2 separate regions of the Homo sapiens genome follow, and region 1 is linked to region 2. The links come from fine-mapping of genetic effects on gene expression. Tissue or cell type: ileum. Region 2 holds a variant in brackets; the other region holds the start of a gene. All regions are shown on one strand. Distances are between the middles of the regions.

The links. PIP is the estimated chance that this variant, and not a neighbour inherited with it, causes the effect.
Region 1: SLC52A1 starts here. The variant in region 2 is fine-mapped to the expression of SLC52A1 in ileum (GTEx, PIP 0.98).

Annotation. Positions count from the first base shown.
Region 1 is chr17:5,033,753-5,036,434 of GRCh38, reverse strand. It overlaps SLC52A1 (solute carrier family 52 member 1), which reads left to right and starts at 1,009. Exons shown (of 5, transcript NM_017986.4): 1 at 1,009-1,574; 2 at 1,722-1,958; 3 at 2,077-2,682. The coding sequence starts at 1,829. The region is part of intron 3 of LOC105371501 (a long non-coding RNA gene); the gene reads right to left.
Region 2 is chr17:5,413,767-5,416,448 of GRCh38, reverse strand. NUP88 (nucleoporin 88) reads left to right here. Exons shown (of 17, transcript NM_002532.6): 3 at 2,315-2,440. Among named protein-coding and RNA genes, the nearest start is that of NUP88, 4.6 kb to the left of the region's middle. RefSeq lists an enhancer at 1,946-2,682. The variant G/AGG (reference allele first, on the strand shown) is at 1,647.

The DNA of each region.
Region 1 (2,682 bases), 380 kb after region 2:
GTCTCAAAAAAAAAAAAAAAAAAAAAAAAAAGCAAAAATTAGCCAGGTGTGCACACCACGTCCAGCTAATTTTTTTTCAACCATTTAAAAGTGTAAAAACAGCTGGCCAGGCACGGTGGCTCACGCCTGTAATCCCCAACACTTTGGGAGGCCGGGGCAGGTGGATCACCTGAGGTCAGGAGTTCAAGACCAGCCTAGCTAACATGGCGAGACCCTGTGCACTAAAAAGACAAAAATTAGCAGGGCATGGTGGTGGGCGCCTGTAATTCCAGCTACTCGGGAGGCTGAGGCAGGAGAATGGCTTGAACCCGGGAGGCAGAGGCTCGTGCCATTGCACTCCAGCCTGGGCAACAAGAGCAAAACTCCGTCTCAAAAAAAAAAAAAAAAAAAAAAAGTGTAAAAACAGCTGAGCGTGGCGGTAGCTAGGTGTGGTGCGTCTGTAGTCCCAGCTACTTGGGAGGCTGAGGTAGGAAGATTGCTTGAGCCCAGGAGTGCCAAGCCAGCCTGAGCAACATAGTGAGACCTTGTCTCTACCAAAAAAAAAAAAAAAAAAAAAAAAAATTAGCTGGACATGGTGATGCTCGCCTGTGGTCCCAGCTACTTGTGGGGGGGTGGGGAGAGGCTGAGTGGGAGGATCCCTTGAGCTTGGGAGGTTGAGGCTGTAGTGAGCCGCGATCGCGCACCGCTGCGCTCTAGCCTGGGTGACAGAGTGAGACCCCGTCTCAAAATTAATTAATTAATTAAAACAACAAACAACAAAACCCCAGCTGTGTGGGCTCTGGGCTGGGCCGCCTCCCCGGCGGAGGGGGCTCCCTCTCAGGCAGACCGCCAGCCGCTGGGTCCGGGGACTGCCGGATCCGGAGGTGCGGGGACCCCTGCGCACCTGGCGGCTCCCGGGATGCCCCCCTGAGGCAGGCGGGAGGGCAGCACGGAGACGCCCCTCCGGGCAGAGCCCGCCCCAGCCACTCCCCTCTCCAACTCGACCTGCCTCAGCAAGTCCTGAGTGTCGCAAAAGCGCTAGGGTTGCAAGTGGCACCAGAGACGTGCCCTTGTCCCGGGGTCCATTTGAGGGTGAGCGTGTTGGTGCCGAGCTGTTTTTTTGTTTTGTTTTGTTTTGTTTTGTTTTTGAGACCGAATCTCGTTCTGTCGCCCAGGCTGGAATGCAGTGGTGTGATCTTGGCTCACTGCAACCTCCACCTTCCGGGTTCAAGTGAATCTCCTGCCTCAGCCTCCTGAGTAGCTGGGATTACTGGCACCCACCACCACGACCAGCTAATTTTTGTATTTTTAGTAGAGACGGGTTTTCACCATGTTGGCCAGGATGGTCTCAATCTCCTGACCTCAGGCGATCTGCCTTCCTCAGCTTCCCAAAGTGCTGGGATTACAGGTGTGAGCCACCGCACCCGGCCAGTGCTGAGCTGTTTTGACAACTTGGACCCCGGGTCCTCTGTGGGTAGGAAAATCAGCTCCCTCTTTGCTCCTCTGGGGCAGCTGCACCTCGGGCCAGCTTTCTGCCTGTCTGCCTGCCGGCACTGCTGGGTCGCTGTACCCAAACGCACAGCCGGTGCCCCGTGGTAAGTCCTGGCTCCCCACCTTCCCCGCCCGCCCCCGGCCACCTCTCCCTCCAGTTGCCCTGGTCTTAGCAGTCTGACCGACTTGTCTTCTGACTCCGGTTCTGTCCCACCAGCCTATTACCTGCCAGCCTGTCTGTTTCCCTCCAGCTAGAAGGTCTTCAGTTTCCAGAAGAACCAAAGCATCTTTGGACCTACCTAGGGAAGGACCTGCCTGTGACCTTTGCCCTGTCCTGGAGGGTCCAGCTTTGGGCTGAATGGCAGCACCCACGCTGGGCCGTCTGGTGCTGACCCACCTGCTGGTGGCCCTTTTTGGCATGGGCTCCTGGGCTGCTGTGAACGGGATCTGGGTGGAGCTGCCTGTGGTGGTAAAAGACCTTCCAGAGGGTGAGTGGGAGGGAGGTACAGGGAAGCGTGGGGCAGGTATGCCCAGAAAGGTGGCCTGTGGCAGCTCTTTGTCCCTTAGCCACTGTGCTCCTGACATGGCATCATTCCTTCCCTGCAGGTTGGAGCCTCCCCTCATACCTCTCTGTGGTTGTGGCGCTGGGAAACCTGGGTCTGCTGGTGGTGACCCTGTGGAGGCAGCTGGCCCCGGGCAAGGGCGAGCAGGTCCCCATCCAGGTGGTACAGGTGCTGAGTGTAGTGGGCACAGCCCTGCTGGCCCCTCTGTGGCACCACGTGGCCCCAGTGGCAGGGCAGCTCCACTCTGTGGCCTTCCTAACTCTGGCCTTGGTGTTGGCAATGGCCTGTTGTACCTCTAATGTCACTTTCCTGCCCTTCCTGAGCCACCTGCCACCTCCTTTCTTACGGTCTTTCTTCCTGGGTCAGGGTCTCAGTGCCCTACTCCCCTGTGTGCTGGCCCTAGTGCAAGGTGTGGGCCGCCTCGAGTGCCCACCAGCGCCCACCAATGGCACCTCTGGGCCTCCCCTCGACTTCCCTGAGCGTTTTCCTGCCAGCACCTTCTTCTGGGCACTGACTGCCCTTCTGGTCACTTCAGCTGCCGCCTTCCGGGGTCTCCTGTTGCTGTTGCCATCACTACCCTCTGTAACCACAGGGGGCTCAGGGCCTGAACTTCAACTGGGATCCCCAGGAGCAGAGGAGGAAGAGAAGG
Region 2 (2,682 bases):
GTTCTTAAGCATGTTTAGTATACTACTCTTAAAACATTAAAACACTCCTCGTGGTCTGCAGACTGGCTTCTGTGTTATCAATGTTCATAGTATATGTGTAATTGATTGTACTTTATTCTGCCTGAAGTACCACGTTGCTGTCTCATTTGAGGCTAGGCCATTCTTTCGATTAGGTAGAAGTAAGATTTTGTAAAACCAGTTATCTGTCAGCCAGAAGTTTGCCAGAAGTGTAAGTATTTTATGTGTGTGTGTGTGTGTGTATGTGTGTATATATATATATACTTTTTTTTTTTTTTTTTTTTTTGAGATGGAGTCTTGCTCTGTCACCCAGGCTGGAGTGCAGTGGCACAATCTCGGCTCACTGCAAGCTCCGCCTCCTGGATTCAAGCGATTCTTCTGCCTCAGCCTCCCGAGTAACTGGGATTACAGGCAAGCGCTACCATGCCCAGCTAATTTTTGTATTTTTAGTAGAGACGGGGTTTCACCATGTTGACCAAGCTGGTCTTGAACTCCTGACCTCAAGTGATCCACCCACCTTAGCCTCCCAAAGTGCCGGGGTTATAGGTGTGAGCCACCGCACCTGGCCTATTTTTATATAATTTCTTTTTCAACAAATCCAGAAAAGTGAATCTGAAAGATCTACTGAAAAGAGTACAGATGCTTTTCAACTTACGATTGGGTTATGTCCCGATAAACCCAGTGTAAGTTGAAAATGGATTTATTGCTGACAACACAGCAGAGGATCCCCGATTTAGGATGGTTCAACGTAGGATTTTTCAACATTATGATGGGTAACCCCATCATAAGTCGTAAGGAGCTCCTCAGTTTATGTTGGCTTATGTACTGGTAAACCCATTGTAAAGTTGGGGATCATCTGTATAAGGTAGAAACTGCTTTTAGCTCCGCAACTTATAAGTTGAGTCCCCTTAAACTGTTTACCTTCTAAATCTGTTTCCTCATTTTAAAAATAGGATTGATAATATCTGCCCTTGTAATTTCCTTACAGGGTTAGTAAAAAGATCAAATGAGATACTATATCTGAAAACACTTGTACTGTATAAATATGTATCAATCCTAAGTCAAACCATCCTAAAATGTATATATACGTATGAAATATGCTATAATTTGGAGCCAGGCACGATGGCTCACACCTGTAATCCCAGCACTTTGGGAGGCCGAGGCAGGTGGATCACCTGAGCTCAGGAGCTTGAGACCACCCTGGGCAACATGGTGAAACCTCATTTCTACTAAAATACAAAAAATAAGTGGGGTGTGGTGGCACACGCCTGTAGTCCCAGCTACTCAGGAGGTTAAGGCACAAGTATTGATTAAATCCAGGAGGCGGAGGTTGCAGTGAGCAAAGATCACGCCACTGCACTCCAGCTTGGGCCACAGAGTGAGACTTCATCTCAAATAAATAAACAAATAAAATTTAAATAAATAATTTAAATTATTAAAATAAATAAATTATTTATTTATTTTGAGACAGAGTCTGGCTCTGTAGCCCAAGCTGGAGTGCAGTGGCGTGATCTCAGCTCACTGCAACCTCCTCAGCCCGGGCTGGAGTGCAGTGGCACAAGCTCAGCTCACTGCAGCCTCCACCTCCTGGGTTCCAGCGATTCTTCTGCCTCAGCCTCACGGGTAAC[G/AGG]GGTTACAGGCATGTGCCACCACACTTGCCTAATTCTTGTATTTTTAGTGGAGACGGGGTTTTACCATGTTGGCCAGGCTGGTCTCAAACTCCTGACCTCAGGTGATCCACCTGCCTTGGCCTCCCAAAGTGCTAAGATAGGCGTGAGCCATTGCGCCCAGCCAGTGTGCTATAATTTAGAAGATATTTTTATTTCAATTCTTTGATATTGATTGAATAGATGCCTTGAATGTCCTCTCAGCATGATTTCAGGGAAATAAATCTGAAGGAAAGAGAATCAAAGAGTGTTAAAATAGAAATTTCTTCAGGGCCTGGCGTGGTGGCTCATGCCTGTAATCCCAGCACTTTGCGAGGCCGAGGTGGGCAGATCACCTGAGGTCGGGAGTTTGAGACCAGCCTGACCAACATGGAGAAACCCCCTCTCTACTGAAAATACAAAGTTCGCTGGGCGAGGTGGCAGGTGCCTGTAATCCCAGCTACTTGAAAGACTGAGGCAGGAGAATCACTTGAACCTGGGAGGCGGAGGTTGCAGTGAGCCGAGATTGTGCCGTTACACTCCAGCCTGGGCAACAAGAGAGAAACTCCATCTGCAAAAAAAAGAAGTTCCTTTAGAAGATTTTCATCCAAGTTGTACAAAATGTTTTGGAAAATTATTATCTTTATTTTAGTACCACTCCAGTTGCGGAGAGATTTTTCACCAGTTCCACCTCTCTGACTCTAAAGCATGCTGCATGGTATCCAAGTGAAATCCTGGATCCCCACGTAGTGCTGTTAACATCAGACAACGTAATCAGGTAAATTTTATTTCTCTCTCTTGAAGCCTTGCGAGTGGGAAAGCTCTGTTTCTGTTTGCCAATTAACAGCTCAACATAGAACGAAGTGAGTCATTGAATGAGTCAGTGCTTTTATTGGATGGCTGTTGTAACCCATTCTCAATCATAAGAATTGCCTAACTGCTCTAACTTACCACTATTCCTTCTCAACTAGTCTTCCTGCCTCCAGGTATCTCCTCTCCTAATCTGACACCTTAGAATAA